4 linked regions of the Homo sapiens genome follow. The protein of the gene in region 1 purifies or fractionates together with the protein of each later gene. This does not show direct contact. Each region holds a gene or a part of one and is shown on either strand. Other genes may lie near its edges. The genes, in order: DNAJC7, STIP1, VPS13C and BLTP2.

Region 1 (7,311 bases):
GCCTCCCAAAATGATGGGATTACAAGTGTGAGCCACTGCACCCAGCCAATTTTCCTTTTGATTTGTGCAAAAAAGTGGTATATAATAAATAACTATGTTTAAGTCTGTCGAAAACAGTGCTATATATGAGAAACATAAAAGTCTGATAAGAATGCATTTTTTTCTTTTTTTAATTGATTTTTTTTTTTTTGAGACGGAGTTTTGCTCTTGTTGCCCAGGCTGGAGTGCAATGGCATGATCTCCCCTCACCACAACCTCTGCCTCAGCCTCCTGACTAGCTGGGATTACAGCATCACCCCACCTGGCTAATTTTTGTATTTTTAGTAGATGGGGTTTCACCGTATTAGTCAGGCTGGTTTCGAACTCCTGACCTCAGGTAATCCACCCGCCTTGGCCTCCCAAAGTGCTGGGATTACAGGTGTGAGCCACCACGCCCAGTCTTTTTTCTTTTTTTAATTAATTTTTTTCTGTCACTATTTGAACTACAGGAATAATGCATGTTGTCATGTTTAATTTACAGTTACATTTTCTTAGTGACAGATAAAATAATTTGCATTCTGCAATCAATGACTTTTTTTTGAGATGGAATCTCACTTTGTCACCCAGGCTGGAGTGCAATGGCCCGATCTCAGCTCACTGCAACCTCCACCTCCTGAGTTCAAGCGATTCTCCTGCCTCAGCCTCCCGTGTAACTGGGATTACATGTGTGTGCCACCACGCCCCGCTAATTTTTGTATTTTTAGTAGAGACAGGGTTCTGCCATGTTGGCCATGCTGGTTTCAAACTCCCGACCTCAGCTGACCCACCTGCCTCGGCCTCCCAAAGTGCTGGGATTACAGGTGTGAGCTACTGCACCCAGCCTAATGACACTTAAATTCCATGAAATAAGGTAGTTTACCTTATTTTGTTGTACTGCTATCAAATACCATGTTTTGTGTGATGTGGTCACATTACAGCATAACCTATTTTATTATATGTCTTCAGGTTCATTTACTCCAATTTTATGATAGACTATCCTCTAAGGCTGTGATTGAAGAAATGTATTTGCTTAAGATAGGAGGCTATGAAATGAAGTCCAAAATAGGGACACTCTACATCAGAGATTTACAATGAGTAGGGTGAGTTTTTAAAATTACCTATGGCCAGCCCGGCACAGTAGCTCACGCCTGTAATCCCAGCACTTTGGGAGGCCGAGGTGGGCGGATCACGAGGTCAGGAGATCGAGACCATCGTGGCTAACAGGGTGAAACCCCATCTCTACTAAAAATACAAAAAAAAAACAACAATTAGCCGGATGTGGTGGTGGGCACGTGTAGTCCCAGCAACTGGTGAGGCTGAGGCAGGAGAATGGTGTGAACTCAGGAGGCGGAGCTTGCAGTGAGCTGAGGTCGCGCCACTACACTCCAGCCTGGGCGACAGAGCGAGATTCCGTCTCAAAAAATAAAAAATAAATAACCTGTGGCCAAATCCCTATTTACAGTATAAAGAACCACTGAACTCTTTCCAAATACAAGTAAATCTCTACAATTAATTTAAGCTCCGTCTGCACTGGGAGGAATTTTGTTTCCCATTGTGCAGCTCTTTAATGATGTATAAGGGTTGATGATGCTTAGCTTTAAATATCTAGGAAGAAGTAGGAACAACATGAAAGCTCAAAATTAAGAACAGAGACTGGACTCTGGTGTCCTGGCTTCTCTGATATCCCAGGGGCCTATTACACTTTGTCAGGCCCCTCAGCTCCCAGCAGATCAGGAACTTGAGATCTGGCTGTGGTAACCACCCTCAAGCTTGATAACTATTCATTGCGTCCGAGTACTTCTTATATTTCGAACTCATTAGATAGTAAAAATCTCAGAATCCTGATTTCAGATCTCATGAACTAATTCTACATCACCGCCTCAAATTACCCAGCCTGAAGACACAACGGGCTTGGTATGAAGATATAAAGTATGTTGCAAAGAGACTGAGGGCACTGTAGATATCTTGAACAAAAGGGTCAGACTAACCCGCAGCTGATAAGGAAAGGGCTCCAAACTTCTAGAACCTTCTTGTCAATTCTGCTTTAGGATTAGAACAAGTATGACTACCCACAACTCTGTTCCAACCCCACTTCCAATAATCTGGCCTAACTGTTGCCAGAATCTAGAGCGTTCTCGAAAACCACTCACTCAGCAGCTCCCTTGGCTAGTCCGACTGGCAATCTCGAACCACTGCGGCTGCTTCGGAGTGCCAACAGCGCCCAAGCAGTTGCCCTCTTCCTTGGTGCTTAACTTAAGAAAGAACAGTGCTGGGAAGGATAAAGATCACCCAGGAAGGACAGGGGAAGAGGAGTCTGACGTAGAGAACACGAGATAAGCCCCTCGCTCTTCCTTTTTTTCTCTGTCATCTTTGACTTCTGGGATAACCGGGGGCAACCAGGTCAATTATGGAGACACACAATCACTTCGAACCCAGACTAGTGATCGCTGGGGTATAATTACAAGGGAAAACGGGGTGAGGAGAGCAAAGGTTTTGGAGACGGAAAGTGCAGACAGGCAACAATGCACAGAAGTTAACAAGAGAACGCGGGGGTCGGGGGCGATGTAAGGAAGTCGTCATCGACGCCGCGCCGCTTCCCCCACCTCGCACCAGACCTCTGAAATTGCCCTCGGAGACTCGGCCTCTCCTATAAGGACGATCGTCCTCTCAGCTGGAGAACAAGGCCATGCCTCAGCTCCTACGCCAGGCGGAAGCGGGAGAGGAAGGCCGACCCCCAAGAGCGCCCCTTCAGGGGGTCCATCCGGCCTTGATCTCAGATGGGGGGGTGTTTGCGGAGGGCGGGGCATCGCCTCAACAGCTGGGGGCTGCATCATGGCAGGAACGAGTTTCCCTGAGCCACGGAGCTGCAGGTCGCCTCCTCTACTACCCTGCTACCCGGTTACCTCTTCGCCTCTTGGTCGTCGAGCAGCTCCGGCTCGGTCGCCGCCATTACCACATCGCACTCCGCGGCAGCCGCCATCTTACCGCCGGGACCAGAGAGCTGGGTGGGAGGCCGGCGGTGAAGAGCACTTCCGGTTGGAGCATAGAGCAGCTCCGCGGCGCCGCGCCCAGAAGGGCTCCCTCGGGCTCGTCTACCAGAGAGAGGCTCCGCTTGGGGCCAGAGCGGCCTCCCGCCCCCGGATGTCCACGGTGGTCTCCGCGCCGGGGCGGGAGCCCAGGGGCTGTGCCGGTGCGTAGGCGGCGCCACTTTACCCGTGGGTGGGAAGGCGGGGTGTACCGGTGGTAGCCTCTCTAGGGCTTGGCTGCTTTCAGTATTCCAAGAGCCTCATTGCCATAGCAACTTCCAATCCTAGAGAGTCTTCCTGAAAGGCTCCGTGGAGTCTGGGTTGCGTGGGGACCAGGTGACCCAAGACTCTGTAGGGAAGGAGTCCCCACTGCTACCTTTCCGACCTTGGAGTGTGTCCACAGCTTCTTCCCGGGAAAGTCAAGAGACACTTTGAGCTCAGTTCCCCCAGCTTTCATCGTTCTCTGGAAGCCCTGCCCAGTCAAGCCAGGGGAACGCAGGGCGTCTTCACCCTGCGCCTTTCATCCACTCCGGATCTCCAAACACCAACTGGTTCATCACCCTAATGACGCTGACCCTTTTACAAGGCTCCTTTCATGTCAGCCGCCTGGGAGTGCCATCTCAGCATTAAGCCTAGGAAAGCTGACACATGGCGCCCCAGACCCTGCCCTGGAGTTTATAAGGAAGCTCGCGGGGTGAGGTCCTTGCTCTTGTGTCCCCAGTACTCCCACCTCTTATATAAACTCTCTACTCATCACGCTTGCCTTGCCGAATGCGGTCTGGATTGAGAATTCATAGGGGACAAGGGCACAGTTTAACTGTCTTTGTTGTTATTCCCTCACCCAAACGACTATTTGTGGAGCTGAATTAAATTGGAGCTTTCTGGGGTTAAATTGGAGGAGTATGAGGAGTAGCTTTACAATGTAAAGCTAAGAGTAAAATAAGAAGAGGGCAAAGGAATTTTAAAAGGATTTACCTGTTTGTTCCAGGAAAACAGCATGTGCCAATGCTCATACTCTGCCTATCCCAGTGTGGAGGGAGCTGAAACCACAGCGACCACTGAGTAGGGAGGGATAGGACAAGCTCACTAGGTTGGAAAGGAGGGGTCATTCGTTGAGCCAATCACTCAGCCCTTTCCAAAACGCCTACTCTGTGCTAGGTTGTGAGGGCACAAGACTTACAGACCACCTGCCCTGCCTGCCAGTGGCTCATAGTCCAGTCTAATGCTAGCCAACCTGTCTCACCATCTTCCCACTTTATGTTCTATCTAAGGCAACTCATTTATTCCCACAGCTTTACTTCCATCTGTTGATGACTCTCAACTTTTCATATCTCCAACCTAGACCTTTCTTCAGCTTCCACAGCTGTATATCCAACTATCTACTGGATATCTCTTGTATGTTTCACAAATCCCCAAGGCTTACCATATTTAAATTTAACTTTTTCATTGTCTACCCACACCTCAACAACAGAAAAAACAAATGTTGGATGTAATTATTATCTTTCCTAAATTCCGTATCTTGTTAAATGGATTAAACCATTCTCACTCTTGGCTTCCAATTTGTTGCCAAGTTTTGTTGATTCTCCTACCAAATATTTCCCAAATCTATCTCCACCTTTCCATCCCGATTCAGGCGCTCATCATTTTTTAAAATCTTGGAATAGGCTGGGTGTGGTGGCATGCATCTGTAGTCCCAGCTATTTGGGAGGCTGAGGCAGGAGGATCACTTGAGCCCAGGAGTTAGAGGCTGCAGTGAGCTATGATCACACCAATGTACTCCAGCATGGAGAAAAGAGCAAGACCCTGTCTCAAAAACGGCAACAACAACAACAACAAAACAACAGAAAAAAAAACTTGGAATACATCAATAGTCTCCTAATCGGTCTCTAATTTCATCTCTGTTCAGTCTTCCCTCTTCTGCCAGAGTGACCTTCCTCAGGGACTGATCATGTCTCTTCATTGGCAATGGCTTTCCATTGCCGTCAATTTGATCTCTTTGGCCTACCACACAAAGCCTTTGATTATCTGTTTCTTTTTTTAAATAATTTAATTTGAGTACCAATATTTAGGTCCTTTCTACCACCAATATTGAACCCAAGTTCTCATAGTTTCAGAAAATGCCATGACTTGTAGCCGTTTCCTCCACCCTAGAACACCCTTTCCCCCAGGCCCTTCAGTGTCTGCTGACTCAACGTTAAATGCCCTTTTGCTGTGCTCCACAGCACCTCAGTAGTTGTTAGACATCTAGCTTCTCTAGACCGTGAGTTCTGATGGGCAGCCACCATGTCTAACTCGTCCACTTTCTCTCAGTATATGGCCCTGCACCAGGCACAGACAGATGATGCTCAGAAAACATTTGACGAATAAATGATTGAGTAAACGAAGAGTTACTGTACTCTGATCGCCTTTACAGAGAGAACATCTGGGCCTCAGAGACACCAGAACACCCAGCGGCCCGCGTCCAGGGAGTCTAGAACCTTGGGCTCCCGCGCACACCCAGGCCAGGTCCTGGCCGTCATTCTCCCGCCGGCCTCTGGGGGAGCTGCGCGGTCCGCGCTCTCTCTCCGCTGCCGGAATTCGTCTTGCCTGACGGAAGCTGGGGAGCGGGCAGGCGGCGGGGGCGGGGCCTGGAGGAGCCTACACCGACTCTGGAGGAAGACTGGAGCCTTTGCGGCGGCGCTGCCCCTCCCCTGGTCCCCGCGAGCTCGGAGGGCCCGGCTGGTGCTGCGGGGGCCCCGGGAGGTACGGACCTGGGAGGCGAGGCTCGTCCGGCGCTAGGATCGGCCTCCGCCTCCGGGCCGCTTTAGGTGGCTGGTCTCTGCCTCTCATTCCCTCTGGGGGCTCCCCCGTGAGAAAATCTGTGGCGGAGGCACCTCTGGCCCACTCTTATGGTGTCCTTTATTGTGGGGCTCGCTATATGGAGAGGGGGTCTGTGTCAGGAGCTTCCCCTGGAGAGGTTTCTGTTAGGGACCGTCTTTGGGAGTGATCTATCTCTGCTCTCTGGGGGGGATCTTTGTCTGGAGCTTTTGGGGGGCTTGTGTTTGGAAGTTTGCCTTCGGGGAGATATCTGTCTGGGACCTCTTAGGGTTTCTGTATCTGAGCTTTCTCTTTTGTGTCTGTCAGTCCAAGGGCAGCAAAAAGTATGTCCTTTCTGAAGCCTTTTTTTCCGTAGGTTTCTTCATTCTTTTCTCTCTTGTCTTATGTTCATTTTAGCCATAGACTTGACTGGAGTTTAGAGGGAATTGATTGTTGTCCAGATGAGTCGTACAGGAAAGCAGATTGTCTTTTTTTGAGACGGAGTCTTGCTCTGCCGCCCAGGCTGGAGTGCAGTGGCATATTCTTGGCTCACTGCAATCTCCGCCTCCTGGATTCAAGCGATTCTCCTGCCTCAGCCTCTCAAGTAGCTGGGATTACAGGCACCCGCCACCACGCCTGACTAATTTTTTGTATGTTTAGTAGAGATGAGGTTTCACTATGTTGGCCAGTCTGGTCTCGAACTCCTGACTTTGTGATCTGCCCACCTCGGCCTCCCGAAGTGCTGAGATTACAGGCGTGAGCCACCGTGCCCTGCCCCAGATTATCCTTTTTATTTGCTCAGTCCCCCCAGGGAGCAGATGGCTTCAGACAGCCACACAAAACACTGTTCCTGCTTAATTCTCCATGGGGTCATGGTTAAAGAGAGGAAGCTGGGCTGAGCTCCCTTTACTAATTGGTCCTCTACATCTTGCGCACAGAAGGGAACCTGGCCCAGTGGCCAGTGACTCTCCTCTCCCTTTATGGCAGCATTTCCAAGCACCTGCCCTGTGACAGATACTGGCTAGGTACTGGGGATAACAAAGACGAATAAAATAACAGCTTACCATCCAGTAGTAGACATGGAGACATCCGTTTCCTCTGACTAGCATTGGGATGGTGCTGAAACCCTGGAACTATACATTCAGTTTAGAACTATACATTCAGTTTAGAACTCTCAGTTATGGACGTTCTGCCTTCTGTTTTTTTGGTTTTTGTTTTTGTCCACCAGAAAACATCTGCTAGTAACTGCCTTCTGTGTTGATGCTTTCTTTCCTCACCTTACCCAGCGTGCTTCTGTTCTTCAAGGTTGAAAACTAAGCATGGGGAAGAGCTGCAAGGTGGTCGTGTGTGGCCAGGCGTCTGTGGGCAAAACTTCAATCCTGGAGCAGCTTCTGTATGGGAACCATGTAGTGGGTGAGTGTTGTTGGAGGGGGAGGAACAGTGGAAGAAGTTGAAAAATAAGGAATAGGAC
Region 2 (6,940 bases), on another chromosome or scaffold:
GTTTCACCATATTGGCCAGGCTGGTCTTGAGCTCCTGACCTCGTGATCCACCCGCCTCAACCTCCCAAAGTGTTGGGATTACAGGCGTGAGCCAGCACGCCCGGCCCAGTTTTTCTTTTTTCTTTTGTATTTTTACTAGAGACGGGGTTTCACCATGCTGGACAGGTTGGTCTCAAACTCCTGACCTCATGATCCGCCCACCTCGGCCTCCCAAAGTGCTGGGATTACAAGTGTGAGCCACTGCACCCGGCCCAACTTGAGTATTTTCTAAACTGAAATACAAACCTCACAGTTGAAAATGAAAACAAAAGGTAGAGAAATCGTGTTTGTTTTCAGGAATGGCTTCCAGATGGTGGGCTCAAACACACCTGGGATTAAATGCCAGGTCATCTGTACAGCTGCCATGCCAGTTTGCTGTCCTAAGTCAAATATTCATTCACCATCTACCTACCTGTACATACACTTCTATCACCAGTAGTGGTAATTTAAAAACAAACATTTTAAGACCAGGCAAGGTGACTCACGCCTGTAATCCTAGTGCTAATGAAGTGGGAGGCCAAGGCTAGAGGATTGCTTGAGCCTAGAAATTCGAGACCAGCCTGGGAAACAGCAAGAGCCCCGTCTCTACAAAAAATGTTAAAATTAGCCAGTTGTGGTGGTGTGCCCAGCTACTCAGGAGAGTGAGGCAGGAGGATCGCTTGAGGCCAGGAACTTGAGGCTGCAGTGAGCTATGATCCCACCAGGGCACTTCAGCCTGGGCCACAGAACCAGACCCTGTCTCTAAAAAAAATACAAAATAAATTTGGTAACAGAAATCGTTTCTTTTCTTTTTTTTTTTTTTTTGAGATGGAGTCTCACTCTGTCACCCAGGCTAGAGTGCAGTGGCGTGATCACAGCTCACTGCAACCTACGCCTCCCGGGTTGAAGCAATTCTCCTATCTCAGCCTCTCCAATAGCTGGGATTACAGGCCTGCGCCATGACCCGCTAATTTTTGTACTTTTAGTAGAGAGGGGGTTTCACCATGTTGGCCAGGCTGGTGTAGAACTCCTGACCTCAGGTGATTCGCCCACCTTGGCCTCCCAAAGTGCTAGGATTATAAGCGTGAGCCACTGCGCCCAGCCGAGATCCTTTTTTTTTTTTTTTTTTTTGAGACGGAGTCTCGCTCTGTGGCCCAGGCTGGAGGGAGACGGAGTCTCGCTCTATGGCCCAGGCTGGAGTGCAGTGGCGCAATCTCGGCTCACTGCAAGCTGCCCCCAGGGTTCACGTCATTCTCCTGCCTCAGCCTCCCGAGTAGCTGGGACTACAGGCTCCCGCCACCACGCCCGGCTAATTTTTCTTCTGTATTTTTAGTAGAGACGGGGTTTCACTGTGCTAGCCAGGATGGTCTCGATCTCCTGACCTCGTGATCCGCCTGCCTCGGCCTCCCAAAGTGCTGGGATTACAGGCTGAGCCACGGTGCCCGGCCCCAGATCCTTTCTTAAAGGTAAAAGAGCAACGTCTTATTCCAGAAATCTTTTCCTCACCTATACTACAGCCCATTTAACCCTAGATACAACTGAAATATTATATGGGCACAAAAAAGTTTACTAACTTCATTTCCACTCTTTTTAATACAGCAAGGAAGCTCGAGCTTTGCCTAAAGCAGCAACTGCTACAAGAGACCAAAGGCTCAGCTCTGTAGCTCACACCAAAAAAAGGATGGTAGTCACTAGTCCATCGAGATGTCTTATTTAAGGGGAGAGTGTGGGCGATCTTAGTTTTATGGCCCTGAAGTAAGAACCAGATACCAGGTATAGTTTCAGAATTGTCACCCCCAAGTGTTATGGGCCCGGAGCGAAGACAGTAGTACTCCCGAGCGGGAGGATGATTTCTCGGAGGTTGGTAGAGGTTTCTTGGAGGTTGTTTTGTCCTTTTTCTTCCGATGAATCATTACAGCTCAATGACAGCTTCAAATCGAACAAAACCTCTAGGCCTTTCATAACCGCAAGCTACTGAGGACATAACCAAGTCACTGAAAGGAAGCAGCAACCGCTTCAAACTCGGCCCCTCAAATGCTCAGTAGAGGCCCATAACTTCCAGCGGTTGATCTCTGTAAATTGTCTACAACCACCCCCGGGTCGTCAGAAACCCATCTTTCAGACCCACCTTTCGGAAGTGTTGGTCCTCGGTCACTCGACAATCACACACACAAGCATACAAAAAGAGGGGGAGGGGCCGCAATACATTTGTAAAACACTGTCAGAGATGGAATTCGTCCCAAGGACTTTTGCGGCACCCTTCCCTTTCCCGCATCAGGTAGAGTCGGTCTGTCGCTCCTCAGACCCCCGCTCAACGCTCTCCCACCCTGACCTTCTCAGATGTAGAAGAGTAACATTTGCCCCAACTGCATCCCAGGCTGCTAAGATCCTCGGCTACTCCCAGTGTATCCCCGTCCCCGCTCCCTGGATCCGTCCAAGTTCCTCGTGGCTAAGTCCCGAGCGGTTTCTCCGTCGGCCGTCTGAGATCTCCCGGAGGGCTACCTCGCGGGTGCGGACCCCGGCCCCCGGCCCACCTCCACCCCGCCCCCTGCGGCCCGCACCCTCCCCAACATGGCCCGCAGCCGCCCCCTCGGGACGCCTTCAGGGCCCGGTCGCGACCCCTCTTCCCGCCGCCGGCCGGACTCACCCAAGCTGTGGCCTCCGCCGGGCCCTCCTCGCCCAACCAGGGGGCGATGGGCGCTCCCCGCGGCCGGCCTCGCTAAAGATCCCGCTCCCGCCCGCCGCCCGCGGCCCTCACCTCCCCGCCGCCGCCCCGTCCGGCCCCAGCGCCGAGCTCCGGTCTCCTGGATCCGGCGCCCGCCCCGCCCCCCTACCGCGGCCTGGCCACCGCCGGTCCCCGAGCAGGCTCGGGGCCTCAGCCCGCCCCTCCCCCTTCACCTGCTCCATAGCGCAGCGCGGTCCGGAACCCCGTTGAATCGAATCCGTCCGCTCCGCGTTCCCAACCGCACGCGCCGCCTTCTGGAACCTACTAGAAGCTACCGGGACCCCGGCTCCCGCCCCTTCCTCGCCTGCTCACTGGTCGAGTTCTTCTAGGGGGAATGTCTGTGCTGCTCTACTATTGGCTTGAGGTCCAGCCCATCATCTCCACTTCCTTCTCATTGGACAGCGGGGAGTAATTCCCTCAACCCTGCCTCCCCCGCACCTCAGGATTGGGCGCTCCTCTATAAACCCACCCATCTCAGGCTCCACGAATGGAGGGAGGAGCGAACTTCTGCGACACGGATTGGTCTTTTGCACTGCCAATCGTAGCCGCGCTGGCCGCGCCCATTGGTTCTGATCGTTCTGGAAATTTCCACCTCTCCCATTGGGCTGCCGGACTCCATGTCGGAACCGCCTTCAGAATGAGAGCGATTCCAATTGGGCGGAGGGTTGCCAACTCTTTGCGCTGATTGGTTTAAATCGCTGCCCTTCAAAAGGCCGGGTTTCGCCCCGCCCCTGATATATGGGAGTACCGGCTGCAGTCGGGGTCTGTAGCTGTGTCGCCGGCGGCTGCGGGGCCTCTGGGTTGCTTTCCCTCTCGCTCCCGAGTGCCGCGAGTTCCAGGCGGTCCCCGGGATCGCCAGCGGCACAGGGCCCCAGCCCTTCGCCCGCGCATCGGGATGGGGGTCCTAGCCGGTGGGAGCTGCCTGTCCCTCGAGCGCCAGCTACCCGCGTTGTCCAGCGCTCCGGCCTCGGCCCGGCCCTCCTGCCTCCTGGCTGTTAGGTTCTGAATGTTCCGGAAATGCCACGTGACCGCGAGGGCGCTTGGGCTTGGGCTGGACAGGCCGGGGATCTCACCGCGGCGGGCCCGGCTGTCCCGCTTGGGCGTCCTCAGTGGAACCGCACACCCTTTCTCAGCGCGCCGGTCGTTTGGTCCTGTAGGGCCGAGGGGAATTCGTGCGGTGTTGAGCACGCGGGAAGCACTTAACGAAAGGGAGCTGCCCCTCAGCCCTCGTGAGTCCGATGTAAAGGAGTGAAGGAGACGAAGAACTGAATCAGTAGTTGACCGCCTGTGAGCTGGCGAGCTGTGCCCTGGTAGGGCCTTAAATCCCAGCCCCAGAAGTCGGAGGCAGGGCAGGCACCCCAAAGCGTGGAAGAGATGCACCTGCGGAGTGAAAATGCTGCTATTGCTTCTAGGGTCAGCCTTGGTTCCTGGAACAAAGGAGCCGCATGACTCGGGTCTGGCGATGATGTTGGGCTCTGCAGTGTCCTCATCCTTCCCCCTCTCTGGGTAATGATATCTTCCCAGGGTTTAAAGTGTGTCCTCTCTGCCAGTAGCTTGTCTCCACAGCCTCATCTTTAATTCCACCTGCCCCACCCATTTTGGACACTGCAGCCAAGTTGCAGCAGATCCGCAAACCTGGTAATCCCTCACTTGAAAGTGCTGGAGGCTTTAGGATGGGGTTCAGGGCCTGTGCAATCTAACCGCCTGCTTTTTTTTTTTTTTTTTTTTTTTTTTTTTTGAGACGGAGTCGAATCTCACTGTCTCCCAGGCTGGAGTGCAGTGGCGCCATCACAGCTCATTGCAGCCTCAACCTCCTGAGCTCAAGCCATCCTCCCACCTCAGCCTCCCAAGTACCTGGGGTTACAGGCAAGCACCATTACGCCTAGCTAATTTTTCTGGGTTTTTTTTTTTTGTTTTTTTTTTTGTATAGATGGATTTCGCCATGTTGTCCAGGCTGGTCTTAAACTCTCGCTCTGTCTCCCAGGCTAGAGTGCAGTGGGGCAATCTCGGCTCCCTGCAACCTCTGCCTCCTGGGTTCAAGCAATTATCCTGCCTCAGCCTACCAGTTAGCTGGGATTACATGTGTGCGCCACCGCGCCCGGCTAATTTTTTTATTTTTAGTAGAGGCGGGGTTTCACCATGTTGACCAGGCTGGTCTCAAGACTACTGACCTCAAGTGATCCCCCCCCCCCCCCGCCTCGGCCTCCCAAAGTGCTGGGATTACAGACGTGAGCCACCGTGCCCAGCGGTTTTGCATTTTCAATTGTGGGGCACGGTGAGAAAAGACTTGAAGAAAGCAAGGGAGTGAGATCCATGGAAATGTAGGGGGGAACCTTGCAGGCCTATGGAACAGCCAGTGCAAAGGGCCTGGGGTGGGAGCTGCCTCAGGGTAGCCAGGATGGCAGGAGGCACAGCTGCCGAGAGGAAGCAGGGGCCAGGTCCTGCAAGGTTAGAGGCCATTGCTACTCCTGAACACATTGGCAGGTTTTGAGCAGAGAAGTGACATGATTTTAGTTTTCTCAGGATCCCTCTGGCTGCTGTGTGGAGGAAGAGGGGAGGGTGAGAGCAGGGATACCTCTTAGGAGGCTGTGGTAGTAATCCCAGGGAGCCAGGATGGGAGCAGAGGAGGGGACAGGAATTGGATTCTGGATGCATTTTGGAGGGAGCATGAAGGAAAGCGGGGTCAAAGGTTCCTCTGAGGCCTTGGCTGCCTCTCTTATTCATCTACATCCATTCTGTCAAGGACACCTTTCATTTCTTCTTGGCACTGTCTCAAGGCCACCACGCTGCTGCCCACCTGACCAGCAGTGGCCTTTCCAGGCCTTCCATCTTCTCCCCAGCAGCTTATCTCTGCGTAGCCAGGTCCCATTTCCCACACACCTTTTTTTAAAGTGTGTTGCACTGCTCTGGGTGCAGGACTGTAGCAGTGACCAGGGCAGCTCCAGATGAAGCTTCTGCTCACAGGAACCTTTTCTACTGAAACAGATGATACCTAAACTCTCAGCTGTGTGACTTTAAGCAACTTGCACAACCTCTCTGTACTTCAGTTGCCTCCATCTTCAAATGGGGATTAAAAAGTGTTGACATCATAGTGGTTGTGAGGATTACATGATTTGATAGTTTATAAAGCACTTAGAACTTGTGAAGAAGAGTGCCTGGGGATTGCCTAAGGTCAGGAGTTCAAGACCAGCCTGGCCAACATGGAGAAACCTCATCTCTGCTAAAAATACAAAAACTAACCACGCATGGTAGTGCACACCTCTAGTCCCAGCTACTTGGGGGGCTGAGGCAGGAGAATCACTTGAACCTGGGAGGTGGAGATTGCAGTGAGCCAAGATTGCGCCACTGCACTCCAGCCTGGGCAACAGAGCAAGACTCGGTCTCCAAAGAAAAAAAAAGAACTGCCTGGCTACGGAATAAGAACTACATGGAGTTATTAAATCAAAATCGGTGCACAAATGATAATTCTTAAGAGTGAGTGCTACAGAGAACACAAAAGGCAAGGCACAGAGAGATGACCTGGGAGGCAGGGAAGGAAAGCATTCCCAGAGGTGAGTGGTTAGTGAAGGCTTGTCAGAGATGGGACGAGGAGAAGCCTAGGGGGCACAGAAGATGCAAAGGTGCTGAGGCCAGGGCAAATTCAGAATTTTTTTTTTTTTTGAGATGGAGTCTCGCTCTGTCTCCCAGGCTGGAGTTCAGTGGTGCAATCTCGGCTCACTGCAACCTCCACCTCCTGGGTCCAAGCAATTATCTGCCTCAGCCTCCAGAGTAGCTGGGATTACAGGCATCCACCACCACGCCCGGCTAATTTTTGTGTTTTCAGTAGAGACAGGATTTCACCATCTTGGCCAGGCTGGTCTTGAACTCCTGGCCTCATGATCCACATGCCTCAGCCTCCCAAAGTGCTGGGATTACAGGCGTGAGCCACCGCGCCCAACCCAGAATTCTCTTTTTTTGGGGGGGGGTGGGGGACAGAGTCTCACTCTGTCATCCAGGCTGGAGTGCAGTAGCGCGATCTTAGCTCACTGCAACCTCTGCCTCCCAGGTTCAAGCGATTCTGCCTCAGCCTCCCGAGTAACTGGGATTATAGATGCCCGCCACTACGCCTGGCTAATTTTTTTTTTTTTTTTGTATTTTTAGTAGAGATGGGGTTTTACCATGTTGGCCAGGCTGGTCTCAAACTCATTACCTCCAGTG
Region 3 (7,299 bases), on another chromosome or scaffold:
ATTTTTATATTTTTTATAGACATGGGATTTTGCCATGTTGCCCAGGCTGGTCTCAAACTCCTGGGCTCAAGAGATCCCCCAGCCTCGGCTTCCCAAAGTGTTGGGATTACAGGTGCGAGCCACTAAGCCCAGCCTACTTCTTTGTCTTGAAATCACCTCTACTCTTTGCCAAAATTCTTGGGCCAGGGCTAAATCTATGGGAAAAGTTTTATCAAATTATATACTTGAGGGCCATGTGCATGTGTTCTGACTCAGCTTTTCCTGGGAGACAAGAATGTTGTTAGCCCTGTTGAGAGCTCTTGGTTAAAGTGATTAGGAGCACAGATCAGAGTTTACAGTCTGAGAAGTTGGCTGAAAAGTTGTTAAGCAAGTTAATGAACCTGTCTGAGCTCAAGTTATAAAATGAGGGTAATAATACCGACCACATTAAGATTGTTGTGGGGGTTAAAAAGATATGCATGAAAATGCTTGGTTGGCAGTTAAACACTAGCTAACAGTTATTATTATTACTATCATTTTATTATGAATGTTTGCTTGGGCAGGGATTAGCTGATTCATACATGGATTCCTTTAAAAACATTTTTCTCCTCAGGCAAGCAAAGCAGATCTACTTTGTTTTTATTAATGATTCACCTTCTTTAGTAACACCTTAATAGCATTTCCTGTACATGATTTTTTGAAAATAGCAGAGATTTGCCATTGCGTGGCTGGTCCCTGTGACCCTGTTAAGCCTTATGTTTTACTTAACTCGGAAGCACGAACCAACCACCCAGTACTTGGGAGAATGGTGTAACAGGGTGCCCGGAACACACAAATCTACTCACAGGAAGACAGTGGCTGTTCCAAGCTCCCAGCTGTAGCTGTGGGAACATCCAGTATTGGAGCTGGAAAACAATTCTGTAAAGTGAGCATGAATAGACCACATACCATCAAGACCAGAGGTGCTCTAAGAGTAAAAGGAAATTAAACATTTTAAAGCATACTTACAAAAATATAGGAGGTTGAGTGTCAAGGAAAGCAAGAAGAGAGATTACAACCAATAAAACACCAGTGTTCTGACTTATGCATCTTGTTCAACACAACTAGAGTATGGGGTACTGGAAAGAATACAGAGCAGGGAGTCAGGACACTTGGGTTTGGGTTTTTGCTCTGACAGTCACTAACTTGTGGGACTTTGGGCAAACCCTTAATTCTCCCTGGCACTCAGTGTCTCCATCTGTCAATTGAGGGGGCTGGATTAACAGGATGATCCTCCCTCTGGCACTAACATTCTGAAATCCACTCCCGTGCTTTCTCCTAGTTAACCTCCCTAACTTTTCCTGCAGTCCATGGTGTCATGGCTTATACTCCAGCTTTCTCCTCCATTTCCTTTCCCCCAAATTCCTTCTGCTTTTCTCCAAAAACTCTAGGGTTGGGGAATAGGGTATGGGTGGTGGTTAGTGTGAAGTTTTTTTTTTTTTTTTAAACACTTTTGAGTTAATTTTTAAGTGTCCCTAACTTATACTTTTGTTTTTAACAGAAATACTTTGCTCATCTGTTTTTATTGTTTAGTCCCTCATTGAAGTTTAGTTTTGTAATTTCCTTTGTTGTCATTCTCATTGTTCTTAAGCCAGAATGAAGGCAAGAACTATAATTAATTAGAATGCTCATTTTCTTTAACCTCTGTTATCCAAATTATTTCTGATATAATGCCATACATAAGGGTGCTAATGGTGTTTCTTGACATTGGTTATAGTTTGTTTTAAATTGGGACTGTATATTTCTGACTTGTTAAATAATGGAAGATTTGGGGCATTACTGAATGCACATAATCAATCCCTTAAAACATGCTGAAAATGGAAAATAGTAAAATTTAAAGCTTTTTATACTACATGATAATAGCATTTTTTTGTACCAAAAATGTAGAGCCAAATTTTCCACTCTGAGATTTATTTTTTCTGTCATGAACCTTTCAAAGTAAGATCTCTGAAAATGACTAATAGCCCAGTGTTGATTAAATTGTATAATTACCAGAAGAGAAAAGGGTGGCAGTGCTCAGAGAATCAAAGGAAATTAATATCTGCTGTGTGACTTTGGGTAAGTCACTTAACATTCCCGAGCTTAATTTTTCTGTAAAATGAGGACCATACTACTACCTGCATTAGCTACCTCACAGCTCTTTTGTGAGGAGTACACAAAAATGCCTACCTTCGCATAATAATGACATGAGGCCTTACAAAGTATAACTGAAACATAATAAAATTGAATGATGCATATGAAAGCACATTTACACATTATTCTTTCAAAATTACCAAGTTATACCATAGAACTGTAAGGAATTACTTTATTAGACAAAGCATTAGTGTTACTCACTTCTCCCAAGAGATTGTGCCTATTGCTCCACCTGCTTGACCAAGCTATGTTGCCTGTGCCATCTTTCCTATCATCTTATACTGTTATTCATACATCCTTGGATTGGCTTCTTTCTTAACTTTTTATGGTACATGCCTTATCTCAACCAGAACATATATTGCTTCTTTACATTCCTCTTGGAGCATAGTCAGTGTGAATGTAAAAAGGAAGCGGGATTGTTAGAGTGTATGACTAGAAAGAACGTGGAGAAAGTTTGAAGAGAGTGTTCTAAACACTGGGAAGTTATTGGATGTTTTTGAGCAGGTGACTAACCTAAGCTCACCTGTGCTTTGGGAAAACACATCCGGTGTTCATGAGAATAGACTGGAGGAAGGAATAACTGGAGGCTAGGAAGTGAATTTCAAGGAGATGGATGGCATGGTCCAGAAGAAAAACATGGAGAATTTAGGAAAGATGGCAAAAGCAAAATAGACAGGTTAGGCTGTTATTTGGTTGTGGATGGTGAAGAAATCCAAAGTACTTACTAGTATTTTGTCTTTGTGACCAGCTAGGAAAAACAGACGGTTAAGGATTTATCTTCTTAAAGAGGAATGGAGTGTGCAAAAGTGGGAGAGGAATGTGATCTTGATAGTACTAGTTAGTACTGACTGGGTCTTTCTTTGTACTTTTAATTTTATTTAATACACAACACCAATTGTAGCCATTTTGATTTTCTTTCTTCTCCAGCGGACTTTGAATTTAAGATTTTTCTTTGTGATCCTGTGCAAGCCTAGGTTGTTTAAGAAAAATACACGAATAGTTTCTCAGACACTTCCTCGTAGCAAAGCACTTATTAATGCTTGTGACTACAAATAATCAGCATTTCTTAGGTTTCTTCCTGTGTACTGTATCTCAACAACTTTTTGAAATATATTTTAGGAAAAAATTTCTAGTTCTCTAAAGAGGTGAATCTCAATGGGTGGTTAAATTTCACAAGGGTTGAAAGATCTTGTGGTATAAAAGCTCTGCTTTTAAGGTCGTGCTACATCAAAGACAGTTCAACGATAGCATGGAAGAAAGTGATATATAAATAACAAGTAACTCATACTTAAAAAGGCACTACTACGTTTTGTTTTTTATATCTGTAATGAGATAGGTAACTGGTTAGTGGCTAGTGAATTAAAAGCGAATCTTAGAGAAAGGGGAAAAGAACGCGTTTCCCACAAAACGCGTATATTCAGTTCTCATTCTATGATATCTGCCATTTGATGTGGTTCTGTTCCCCTCCTCCCACTTTCAAATTATTTGTCGCGCGCCAGTGGTCCCAGCTACTCGGGAGGCTGACACAGGAGGATCTCTTGAGTCCAGGATGTCAAGTCTGTAGTGAGCTATGATCCCGACACTGCATTCTACCCTTGGCAACAGAGCGAGACCCTGTCTCAAAACAAAACAAAACAGAAACAAAATAAAAAAACAATGTTTTCAAGAAGCAGAGACCAAGCCCCAGGCGGAGTCGAACTCTAGCAGGACAAGAACGCGGTCGGTCCCTTTCCCCCACCTGATCCACAGGTGCAGGGGTGGTTGCCTAGGTGACGCTCAGCGCATACTCCAGGCCAGGCGGCTCCGGACACCGCGATGCGGCCGGAGTTCAACAGCAGGTGACGGCGGGAAAGCAGAGCGGCCACATAGATGTCCCTGTACTCGGTAACTCTTGCCCTCCCTTGTTCTTCTCGAAGGTCCTTTTTTTTCTCGTGCACGGCTGACGAGACAGGCGCAAGCTAACTTCCCCCGCACTCCTCCGTCGGCCTCTAGAGGGCCAGGGCTGCGGCGCCTACAAAGCCTCGGGATCACAGCTGGGCCTCCTTAGCTACCGGCCGGGCGACAGCGCGCCTGCGCACCGGCGGGGTCACGCGCGCGGCGCGGGGGTGGGCCTGCGCCGGAGGGGCTGTCATTTGCAGCGCTGGTCGCAGCCCTCAGCTGCGCCGGGCGGTTCCGGCTCCTCCCTCTCCTTGTGCCTCAGCGCCACCATGGTGCTGGAGTCGGTGGTCGCGGACTTGCTGAACCGCTTCCTGGGGGACTATGTGGAGAACCTGAACAAGTCCCAGCTGAAGCTGGGCATCTGGGGCGGTAAGCGAGAGGGCGCGGCCAGTGGGCTGCGGGCGCTGAGGGCCCAGCCGAGGGCTGCTCCGTCCGGGATTCTGCCCGGGCCCTGCTCCCTGCGCCGCCTGAGACTCCCCATCCCGGTGCGGCAGGTGCTAGATGCGGGAGCCTCTGCCGCCCGCGGATTCTCGGGGTCCCAGTCCCGACTCCGGCTGGGGAGATGCGGCGGGATCCCGCCCGCGCTGCCAAAGTTCCCACCTTTCTCGTCCCCCGAGGCCAAGCCCTGGCCCTGCTGTCCCCGCCCTGCCCGTTTCTGTGGTCCTCTCGCTGCACTCAGGGTGGCCCCTTTGGCCCTACAGCATAAAAACAGAGCCCTTTCTGTTTCGGTATCGCGTGGAGTGAGCATGGTTGTCTGGTCATATACGCTCGAAGTGGCACTAAGAAAAAAGGAGGAAGTTGCATCTCGCAGTTATCTTCACTATCATTTTACAGGGAGCAAGAACTGGGTTCCTTCTCTTTAGGATTACCGGGTTTGGAGAGGAACGGGCAGGAGATCTTTAAGATAGGCGTGTGCTTAGGGATTCTTACTCTTAATGCTTTCAGCTCCTGTGAAAATGATTTCTTCCTTTAATATTTACTTTTCCGTCAATACGAAGAGGATTTTGAATTTTGTTTTGGAGCAATAGAGAGAAATTCAAGCCTCGACCAGCATCGTCATTAATTAGGTGTCTGCTTGGTTGCATGCTCAGGAATTTATGCCAACGTTTTTATCCTGGAGATTAAGTGTATAAAAGTATTCAGGAAATAGTGTACTTAAACATACACTCTTCAACGAGCTTAATCGTTTGCATGAATTACGTGTTAAGCTTTGAGGACTTTGGGACTTTCTCACTCCACAAAAGGTTTGGGAACTTTGTCAGCTTTGGAGGAAAATTCAAAAAACGACTCAAATGTATGGATCTGCTTTTAATTCAAGCAACAACAAATAGCTATAGACTTCCCCTGTCCACTAGGGTAACCACTAGCCACTGTAGCTGTGGAGCACTTGATATGAGGTTAGTGCTAATTGAGACTTGCTGTATGAATTAAAACATCGTTTTGAATAAGCATTACTCCTAATGAAGTAGGAGAAAAAAATAATACCTCAATAATTTTTATGTTGCTTATGTGTTGAAATAATATTTGAATATATTGGGTTAAATTAAATATAATATTAAAGTGTATTTCCCGTGTTTTTTAGTTTTACTTTTTTTCTTTTTAAACTTGGCTTCTAAAATTTATAATTACGTATATGGAACATATATTGGGCAATGCTGTTTATACCCTGAATTACGGAAGAGCCTGGTTGTTGTTGTTGTTGTTTTTTTTTTTTGGCTTGTCTTTTTGAGACAAGGACTTGCTCTGTTGCCAAGGCTGGAGTGCAGTGGCAAGATCGTAGCTCATTGCAGCCTCCAACTCCTGGGCTGAAGTGATCCTCCTGCCTCAGCCTCCCAAAGTGCTAGGATTACAGGTGTGAGCTATAGTGCCTGGCAAGAGCCTGTTTTTAATAGGTGGCTGATCATTTGATTGGTTCACTGTGGTTTGCCCAACAATACAATAGTCCCTTGGTATCTATGGGGGATTGGCTTCAGTACCCCTGACCATACCAAAATTGGAGGTTGCTCAAGTCCCTTAAATAAAATGGCCTAGTATTTGTATGTACCCTATGCATATCCTTCTGTATACTTTTGGTCATCTCTGGATTGCTTATAATACCCAATAAGTAAGTGCTATGTAAATAGTTGTTCTGTTGTTTTTTAATTTGCATTTTTTTATTGCTGAATTGATACTTTTTATTTTTTCCCCCCGAAATATTTTTGGTCTGCAGTTAGTTCAGTCCGTGAATATGGAGGGCCTACTGTACATTCTTTGTTTACATCCCCCCACCACACTCAATACAATGTAAAGGAAAGGTAAGTAAAGAAAGACACATTTAAGGAATTAAATGACCAGCATCTTCTGCAGAAATCAAGTATTTCTTCAGAATACTGGCAATATTCTTTCCAGTGATTCCTTATAGTTTGTAAACATTTGAAACTTGAAAACGCACCGGAGTAGCAAATCTGAAATCTGAATAGGCCTAGTGAATGGTGTGCTGTGTTGGACAAGCCACTTACCTTATTGGGCCTTAGTTTCTTCATCTTAATTTAAACTTTATAGAAAAAATATTTTTAAATTCTGAAAAGTTTAAATCATACTGGATGATATAATACTTTCATGTAATTACTCATATTTCAATGTTATAATATTATGCCATATTTACTTTAGACATTTTCTTTTTAAAAAGATAAAACGTATGGATATAGTCAGAGGTTCCATTGCCATCAAATGTTACTCTCTTTTATCTTTAAAATTGGAGGTTGGACTAGGTAACATCGAAGGTGATGCCAATATTCTGTTCTTCTGATAATGGTTTTACCATGACATTGAGGAGTATACTGCTTGAAGATTTTGAAGTTTTTCACAACTGAAATTAAAAATGTCGTAATTTTATGTTATTTCCCCTTTTGTCTTTTTTTGGTGAAATCTAGAAAAGGAGACTTTCTTTCATCTCATTTTTAAATTTTTAGAATAAGGTATTCTGCCAGTGGCCAACATTAACTTTATAATAGGCCTGAGCAAATAAACCCATTTCTTTCACATATTGTGTCTAGTGAACATCCAATCAGGGATTCTCCTAGCTTTATCAGCTCACAACTCTGCCTCTGTAAAGCTTTGCTGCCTTTTATTTTTGTGGTTGCTATAAAGCTAGAAGTCACGAGCTTTTATCATTATTGCACAGTCTGTTGTTGATAACCCTAATTTCTCAATAAAATTGGAAGGCAAGAT
Region 4 (7,023 bases), about 13 Mb from region 1:
CTGCCGACAGCTTACTGCTCCCATTCCCAGCCTCTGCCTCCTCTCTCTGCTAAATCTGCTGTCCCAGTTATATAAGCAATTCCTCTCCCTGATGCTGCGTGACACGAGCCCCGCCTCTTCCAGTCTGCAGAAACCCATCAGCATGGGGCCAGAGTCACACTAGGACTAGAAATTTCTGTGATACAGCTTCAGGGCAGAGGAAGGAAGGGGCCACCCTCAGAGTGGCAGCTGCAGGATGTTCTGGGTTGATGAGGGAGGAATACACAGATTGAATGCATGCACTCAACACACACACACAAAAATGAGCATCAAATTTAAAATATCTTTTTTTTTCTCTTTAAATCATTTTGCCATTCTCCAGGGTATATCCTACGGGGAAGGGTAGGGGACCCATGGCCAGCCCTGGCTCCTACTGCCATCCTCCCAAGTGAACTTAGCACAGAGACTGGGGAGGGGTTGACCCCCACTCCAGAACACCAATACCTCTTTCAAACATGACAGTGGAGTGAGGATCAGAGGATCAGCCCCCTCCCGTTTCCTGGCACAGAGGAAGGACAGTTACACTTAGAAATATATATATAATATATATATATTTATATATGTCTATAAAAATTTATCACACTTGATCAGGACTATCCCCCTACCCTTTCACTTGACCCCAAGGGAATAGGGTCCTGCCCTGGGCCCATTCCCTGGGTCTTGCTCTCTTGTTGCCTCTCTGGCCCTGAGCCTGATCAGTGTGAGACAGAACTCAGCATTACTGTCCACCATGCCCTGCAGCGAACAGACCAGGTGCTGAAGAGTGATGCCTATGGGCTCTGACACCCACAAATCCTCGTGGATAACGGGAAGCCCCTCCCACCCCACAAGTCCCTGGAGCCTGAGCCAGAGTCAGATCCTGTACTGCAGCCACTCGAATCGCCAAATCATTTGCGCCTGCCAAAGATGGACTTCTTGCCAGGGTTCTTGTCGCCCACACTTAAACCAATGAGGAGCCGGGCTTTCTCCTCCTCTTCCTGCTGTTGCATGTTCAGGTCCGATTTAGTTTCTAGCTTTCCCCGGACCTCAGAGCCTGTTGCAGACTTCAGCCTTAGCTTCTCTTTGATTACCTGGCAGATTGGAGAGGAGTAAAAGAAAATGTAAATATTAGTGGGCAGGCAGAATAAATCAAAATGAACCAAGACAATAAAGATTTATTAAACACATCCAAGGCACAATGGGGCAATTCACATACAATGGTCTCTGCTTTCAAGAAGCTTACAGTCTAATTATAACCCCTTCTAAACTTTAGGTTGTGTTAGCTCTCAGTTCCCTAAAATCAATGGTGCTATACGAAACACTCAGTAAACACTGAATTTAATAATCTGAGTGAGGTCATGGAGAGGGTAGGCATAGAAGCCACTCACTTCATGCACCTGCCCCTTCCCAAGGATATTTATTCATGGATTCTAAAATGAAAGGCTCCTGAAAAGAGGATCTGCCTGCCAGCCCCATTAGCCAAACAGCCATGAGCCCTGGCGGGATACCTGGGCAACCAGGGCTTTGCGGCTGTCCCTTTTGACAGCCATGGCAAAGTCTAGCCATGTCCATGTGTTGTTGTGGTACTCCAGACAGGGCAGCACCAGGTTAAGGTCACCCCAGTCCACACTGTTCTTCTCACCCTGTAAGAGGAGGGGGAGGGGAAAGAAAAAAAGAGGGGTGGGGAATACATCAGCTGCCATTTTGAGTCCCAGCCAGCCACTTGAGTGCCAAGTCCTACAATAGTAACCTACAGATACTGATTTCCCCTTACCTCAGCCTCGTAATGATGCTGACTCTTGAGGGGAGCAGAGGGAACAGCAGATTTATCACCCACAGCTCAGCATCACAAACAACCTAGCTGTCTCCCTGTATAGAATCTCTGATCTTATCTGGTTCCCTTCCCACCCTGTTCTACAAAGTGCTTGAGAGGTGCAGACCTTGTAGCTGACACACAGTGGAACCTGTGGAATCTTTATGTAGATGAAGGAGTTGTTCATGGCAGCTCGCTCTTTCATCTTGTCAATGTCATCCACAGGGTGCTAAGAAAGGCAGGCAAGGAGTGTGAGCCCTGAATCCATCAGAAGAAACTCAGGACCCCAAACATCTCCCTCTTCTTTTATCCCTAGAATGGACTTAGAGGAAACCGAAGAAATCCCAAGCCACACCAAACAGGACCTCAAGACTCTCCCATTTTTCTATCATCAGGGGCATGTTTGGTACCTCTGGCGATTTGCGAAATGACCTTCTGACCCCAGAACTCCGAGTCAAACCCTGTGCCACACCCTTCCCAGGGCCCAGTGGTACTGCATCATCTGTTGCAATCAGCTGCCGAGGCTTCACCACTGGTATTCCTATGAAAAAGCAAGTGTACCAGCTGTCATCCATCCTCGTTCTGAAGTCTCAGCTGTCTTTGGGGTTGCTACCCTATTCTTCTGGGGCTCCACCATAAAAGTTCTCACCAGTAGTCACCAGTTTGGACTTATCCTCTTCATCACCAACTTCATCATCTTCCACACTTCGGCCAGGAAAGAAAAAGCCCATCATTCTGTGGAAGAACTGGTGTGTCAGCTGGATGGTGAGAGGCACCACATTTACCTAAAAAGGAAAAAGATTCAAGAAGCAATTAAGCTCAGATACCATCATCAGTTTACCTACTCCTAATATCGTGTAACACACAGGTGGCTTTTGAATGTCCCTTGTTCCCAGGTCCCTAAGGGACTGCTTACTAACCTCAAAATGCTCCTTAACAGAGATACCCCCAACAGGGGGCCGAACTTTGCTGAAGAGGCGGAGAGCTAGCTGTCGCCCAGACTGGCAGGAGCTCTGGGGCCGCAGTACTACCTGTAGGATAGAGAGTAAAGAAGAGCCCAACCCAATGTCCTTCCTGCCATAAAGCAACCCACAAATCCTCTGCAGAATGAGAGGAGAAGCAATGGTACTGCTAAGCTGGGCAAGCTTTCACCCTCTCAGATCACCACATTGTTTTCCATAGTGGATTTATACTGAAGGGCCGTTATAAATGCCCCGTGCTAAAAACATGCAAATGGACTAGGAAAGGGGAAAAAAGACTTGCCTTATAGACAGCATTGGGGAGGAGGTTGTTCATGGTAAACCAGCCCAACTCCAGAAGATGTTCTGCTGTGTCATCAGACTTATTCACCTATAAAGACAGATTTTGCCCCATCTACTATAATAAACCTTTCTCAGAAGTCTACTAGACAATTGTTATGTATCCAGTTTGTTTTCAGGCTCTACATATGCCTAATCCCAACCTTGAGATCTCCTTCAAACTCATACAATCAACACTCTTTAATCCAGTGTGTCTCATGGGCACTATTGTCCAGGACACTAAATGCTGGTAGTACTATCTAGCCATTGTGACATTAAAAAATGTTCTAATTCATTTCCAAACGCCTCTGGTAGGAGAAAGTAATAAATAATACTGCCTTCTTTACGTCAATGGCAGAAAAGCTGAATGTCAGTATTAGAATATTCTATTCCAAGCTAGACATGAAAGATTATTTGCCTCTGGGCCATACTTCTAGGGATCATCTTCTTACTCAACAAGAGAAGCATCTGATCAAACTCACCTGTATCTGTATCTTATTTTTATTTTTTTGAGACAGGGTCTCACTCTGTTGCCCAGGCTGAAGTGCAGTGACACAATCTTGGCTCACCGCAACATCCATCTCCTTCCTGGGTTCAAGCGATTCTCCTGCTTCAGCCTCCTGAGTAGCTGGGCTTACAGGCACACACCACCACACCCAATTTTCTTTTTTTTTTTTTTTTTTTTGAGATGGAGTCTTGCTCTGTCACCAGGCTGCAGTGCAGTGGCACGATCTCGGCTCACTGCAACCTCCACCTCCCAGGTTCAAACGATTCTCCTGCCTCAGCCTCTCAAGCAACTGGGACCACAGGCGTGCACCACCACGCCTGGCTAATTTTTGTATTCTTAGTAGAGATGGGGTTTCACCATGTTAGCCAGGCTGGTCTTCAGCTCCTGACCTCAGGTGATGCACCTGCCTCGGCCTTCCAGAGTGCTGGGATTACAGGTGTGAGCCACCGTGCCCGGCCTATCATATATGTTTTTAATTATTTATTTTCTTTTTTAGAGACAGGGTCTCACTCTGTTGCCCAGGCTGGAGTGCAGTGGTGTGATCACAGCTCACTGCAGGCTCGAACTCCAGGGCTCAAGCAATCCTCCTGCCTCAGCCTCCCAAGTAGCTGGGACCACAGGTATGCACCACGATGCCCAGCTAATTTTTAAAATTTTTGTTGAACTCTTGACTTTAAGCAATCCTCCCACCTCAGCCTCCCAAAGTTATGGGATTACAGGCATGAACCACTACACGTGGCCTGTATCATTTTTTAAAAATTATTTTATTTCTTTGTTCATTCTTACTCTCCCCCTATGGCATCAGAGCTATATGTGTATCATTCATTATAAACAGATATATCTAAGGAAGCTCTGCTCATTAATATGATTAATGAGCTCGTTAATATTAATGATACTATCATTAATAATCATACAATAATTAACCCCCTTTTATTTCTCTTTTATGAGTTAGACTCCTAAGCTAGGTCAATGTCTCTCAATACAGCTGCCTTTGTGTGACCATATACCCCAGATACCTTGCTGTAGAGGAACCTCTGCAGTTCTAATTCAGCAATTCCCAGCTGTCCATCTTCCTCTGTCAGGCGCCACCGTGCCTGAGCAAAGTAAAACTCAGTGCGACGGACCACACTCACATCTTCTTGCTGCTTTCGCAGCTCCATCTTGTTAGCCCGCTGCAGTTGGAAATCCTTAAAACACCTGTAAGTGGACAGGGGAGCCAAAGCCAGTAAGGGAAACAGCACATGGGTTGGGGGTGGGATAGAATGCTCTAGAATGATGCAGGAGGTAAACCCAGAAATTAACCTATTCTGGGTTAGCCAGTCCCTACATTTTTTTCACTGAATTTATTGCTCCTGACATTCTAGGTCATAGGAGCACAAATCCCATCTTTCAGCTCTATAGCTTCTTGATAAAGTAGTGTCTTCCCACTAATAATTCCTACAATTTTATCTGCAACTGTATACTGATCAACTTCAAGACATTTTCATATGTTTATGTCAGGTTCATTAAAAAAAAAAAGATATTTTCAGTTCAGATGCATAGTATCAAGGCCACCAAAGTGATCTTTCAGCTGGGTGTGGTAATCCCAGCTCACGCCTGTAATCCCAGCACTTTGGGAGGCCAAGGCAGGAGGACTGCTTGAGCCCGGGAGTTCCAGACCAGCCTGGTCAACATAGTGAGACCACTTTGTCTCTAAAAAAAAAAAAAGTGATCCTTCCCAACTACCCATTTTCTTATTCAGGAAGAGATGTCTGAACCTACTCCTACATCAGCCTTTGATAATGCACACTAGACCTAAAGACAGTCAAAACATGGGCAAGAAAGAGAACTGCCTCTAGCTGGGGCACTGGAAAAGGGCAAGGAAAGAATGCTGGGGCACCTGATGAGGATATTCAGTTCTTCACTTTCCAGCTGCAGGTTGGCCTTCTCCTGGTTTAGCTGCAACTGAAGCTTCTGGTTCAGGTCAAGCAGATTCTCATTCTTGCTGTCATCCTGCAAAGACTAGGGAACCAGGATAGAAACTGAGAGACCGCCCTCGTTCTAGGAGACTTCCTGGTTCTCAAACTATCTATCTGCAGTGACTACCTTCATGATAGAATACATCTGCTTCTCCAGCTGTCGTATTTGGGCCACATGCTGCCGCACAGCCTCCTGCAAATGCAGTATGCTGCTGCGTTGCTCCTCTGGATTGCTAGAGATCTCAAGCTGGAACCTGACCCGTTGCTTCTTCTCACTATGTTCCTAAAGGAATGGAAAGGGAAATGAATATGATTTTTAAGTAGACAAGTCTTGTAGTAAAGTGAAATAGAGAAAGGAGAAAGAAATGGGGGGGGTCTCTTCTAGAAAGCTAACCTTTATCTGTCACTGGTAATAGCAACAGTAGTAGGTCAATGCAGAAAATGTGGCAATGTGGATTTCACAATAGGTCAGGCCCAACAGGATGGGATGGAGGTGGAAGCAGGGAATAGTAAATGTTTTTAGAGGTGTCTAGGTGACTGAGTAGAGAAATGACTAGGAGAAAACAATCAGGCAAACAAGCCCTACGGTCTGAGAGATATTCAGGCCTTTCCTAAGTAAGTGGAATTTCAATTGTCACTGCCGACTAAGAGAATCTACCAACCACAAGGCCCTTTTTCAGTGTGAAGCATGGCTTTTGTTACAGAAGCCCAAATAAAGCACAAAGTCTGGGTGTTCCTGTGAGGCTAACCAGCATTCTACAAGGGCCCATGCTCACCTTCCGCTTAGGTTCTACATGGAGCAGCAGGTTGTTGACAATGTCCAGGATCATGGCATACTGAGCTGGGTTGGTGGAAATTTCCAGCTCATGGTGGATAAGGGTGAAGGTATCCACAGCCCCTAGATAATTGTTAGCAGCTAAATAAAAGGCTCAAGTTTCTACCTAAATATCTACTCCATCTCTTAACCCACATTTGGAACCACCCCACTAGTCAACCCCACAGAAAGGGTGAGAGTTGCTCATGGGCAGAAACATGTTTACTTCAGAATCATAAACAATGCCCATTCATCCCAGCTCCCTCCAAGAATAGAGGTTATTTTCTCATAGCAGAACTTACAAAAAGTAGAGCAAAGTGAAATGTTAATGCCAGTGCACAGTGGATTTTTAATAACTCTACTGTCTCAAAACCACCAAGGAAATAACTACTTTCACAATTTCTCTAGTCCCTTCCTAAAAGCCTTTCAAGCCCTGAATACCTTCCTGCTTCTTTAGGAGATCTTCCTTTTCCTGGTTCTCAAGAACTTCAGGTGGCTTAATCTGAGTTGCTAGTTCAGGATCAATGTCATGGCTGTAACTAATATAGTACATTCGGCAGTTGCAACGCGAAATGATCCGCTGGACTTGCTGGGCTTGCTGTGCCTCAGCTGGC

What was found.
Region 2: the proteins of DNAJC7 (region 1) and STIP1 purify together in Homo sapiens (affinity purification with mass spectrometry; 4 studies listed by BioGRID and IntAct, with this or other methods). This does not show direct contact.
Region 3: the proteins of DNAJC7 (region 1) and VPS13C purify together in Homo sapiens (co-immunoprecipitation; 5 studies listed by BioGRID and IntAct, with this or other methods). This does not show direct contact.
Region 4: the proteins of DNAJC7 (region 1) and BLTP2 purify together in Homo sapiens (co-immunoprecipitation; 4 studies listed by BioGRID and IntAct, with this or other methods). This does not show direct contact.

What each region holds. Positions count from the first base shown.
Region 1 is NC_000017.11:42,014,419-42,021,729, forward strand, and holds the start of DNAJC7 (dnaJ homolog subfamily C member 7), read right to left. Parts: upstream 3,022-7,311; 5' UTR 2,999-3,021; coding exon 2,922-2,998; intron 2,745-2,921; exon of another isoform or gene 2,622-2,744; intron 1-2,621. Other genes in the region: NKIRAS2 (NF-kappa-B inhibitor-interacting Ras-like protein 2), read left to right, coding at 7,160-7,253. UniProt on the Homo sapiens protein: Acts as a co-chaperone regulating the molecular chaperones HSP70 and HSP90 in folding of steroid receptors, such as the glucocorticoid receptor and the progesterone receptor.
Region 2 is NC_000011.10:64,182,247-64,189,186, reverse strand, and holds the start of STIP1 (stress-induced-phosphoprotein 1), read right to left. Parts: upstream 3,017-6,940; 5' UTR 2,926-3,016; coding exon 2,917-2,925; intron 1-2,916. UniProt on the Homo sapiens protein: Acts as a co-chaperone for HSP90AA1. Mediates the association of the molecular chaperones HSPA8/HSC70 and HSP90.
Region 3 is NC_000015.10:62,057,434-62,064,732, reverse strand, and holds the start of VPS13C (intermembrane lipid transfer protein VPS13C), read left to right. Parts: upstream 1-4,285; 5' UTR 4,286-4,358; coding exon 4,359-4,458; intron 4,459-7,299. UniProt on the Homo sapiens protein: Mediates the transfer of lipids between membranes at organelle contact sites. Necessary for proper mitochondrial function and maintenance of mitochondrial transmembrane potential.
Region 4 is NC_000017.11:28,614,138-28,621,160, forward strand, and holds the end of BLTP2 (bridge-like lipid transfer protein family member 2 isoform 1 precursor), read right to left. Parts: coding exon 6,851-7,023; intron 6,494-6,850; coding exon 6,372-6,493; intron 5,879-6,371; coding exon 5,723-5,878; intron 5,639-5,722; coding exon 5,517-5,638; intron 4,835-5,516; coding exon 4,654-4,834; intron 3,241-4,653; exon of another isoform or gene 3,182-3,240; coding exon 3,095-3,181; exon of another isoform or gene 2,863-3,094; coding exon 2,752-2,862; exon of another isoform or gene 2,617-2,751; coding exon 2,481-2,616; exon of another isoform or gene 2,373-2,480; coding exon 2,242-2,372; exon of another isoform or gene 2,148-2,241; intron 2,061-2,147; coding exon 1,959-2,060; intron 1,662-1,958; coding exon 1,527-1,661; intron 1,110-1,526; coding exon 927-1,109; 3' UTR 309-926; downstream 1-308. Other genes in the region: RSKR (ribosomal protein S6 kinase-related protein), read right to left, coding at 1-24. UniProt on the Homo sapiens protein: Tube-forming lipid transport protein which binds to phosphatidylinositols and affects phosphatidylinositol-4,5-bisphosphate (PtdIns-4,5-P2) distribution.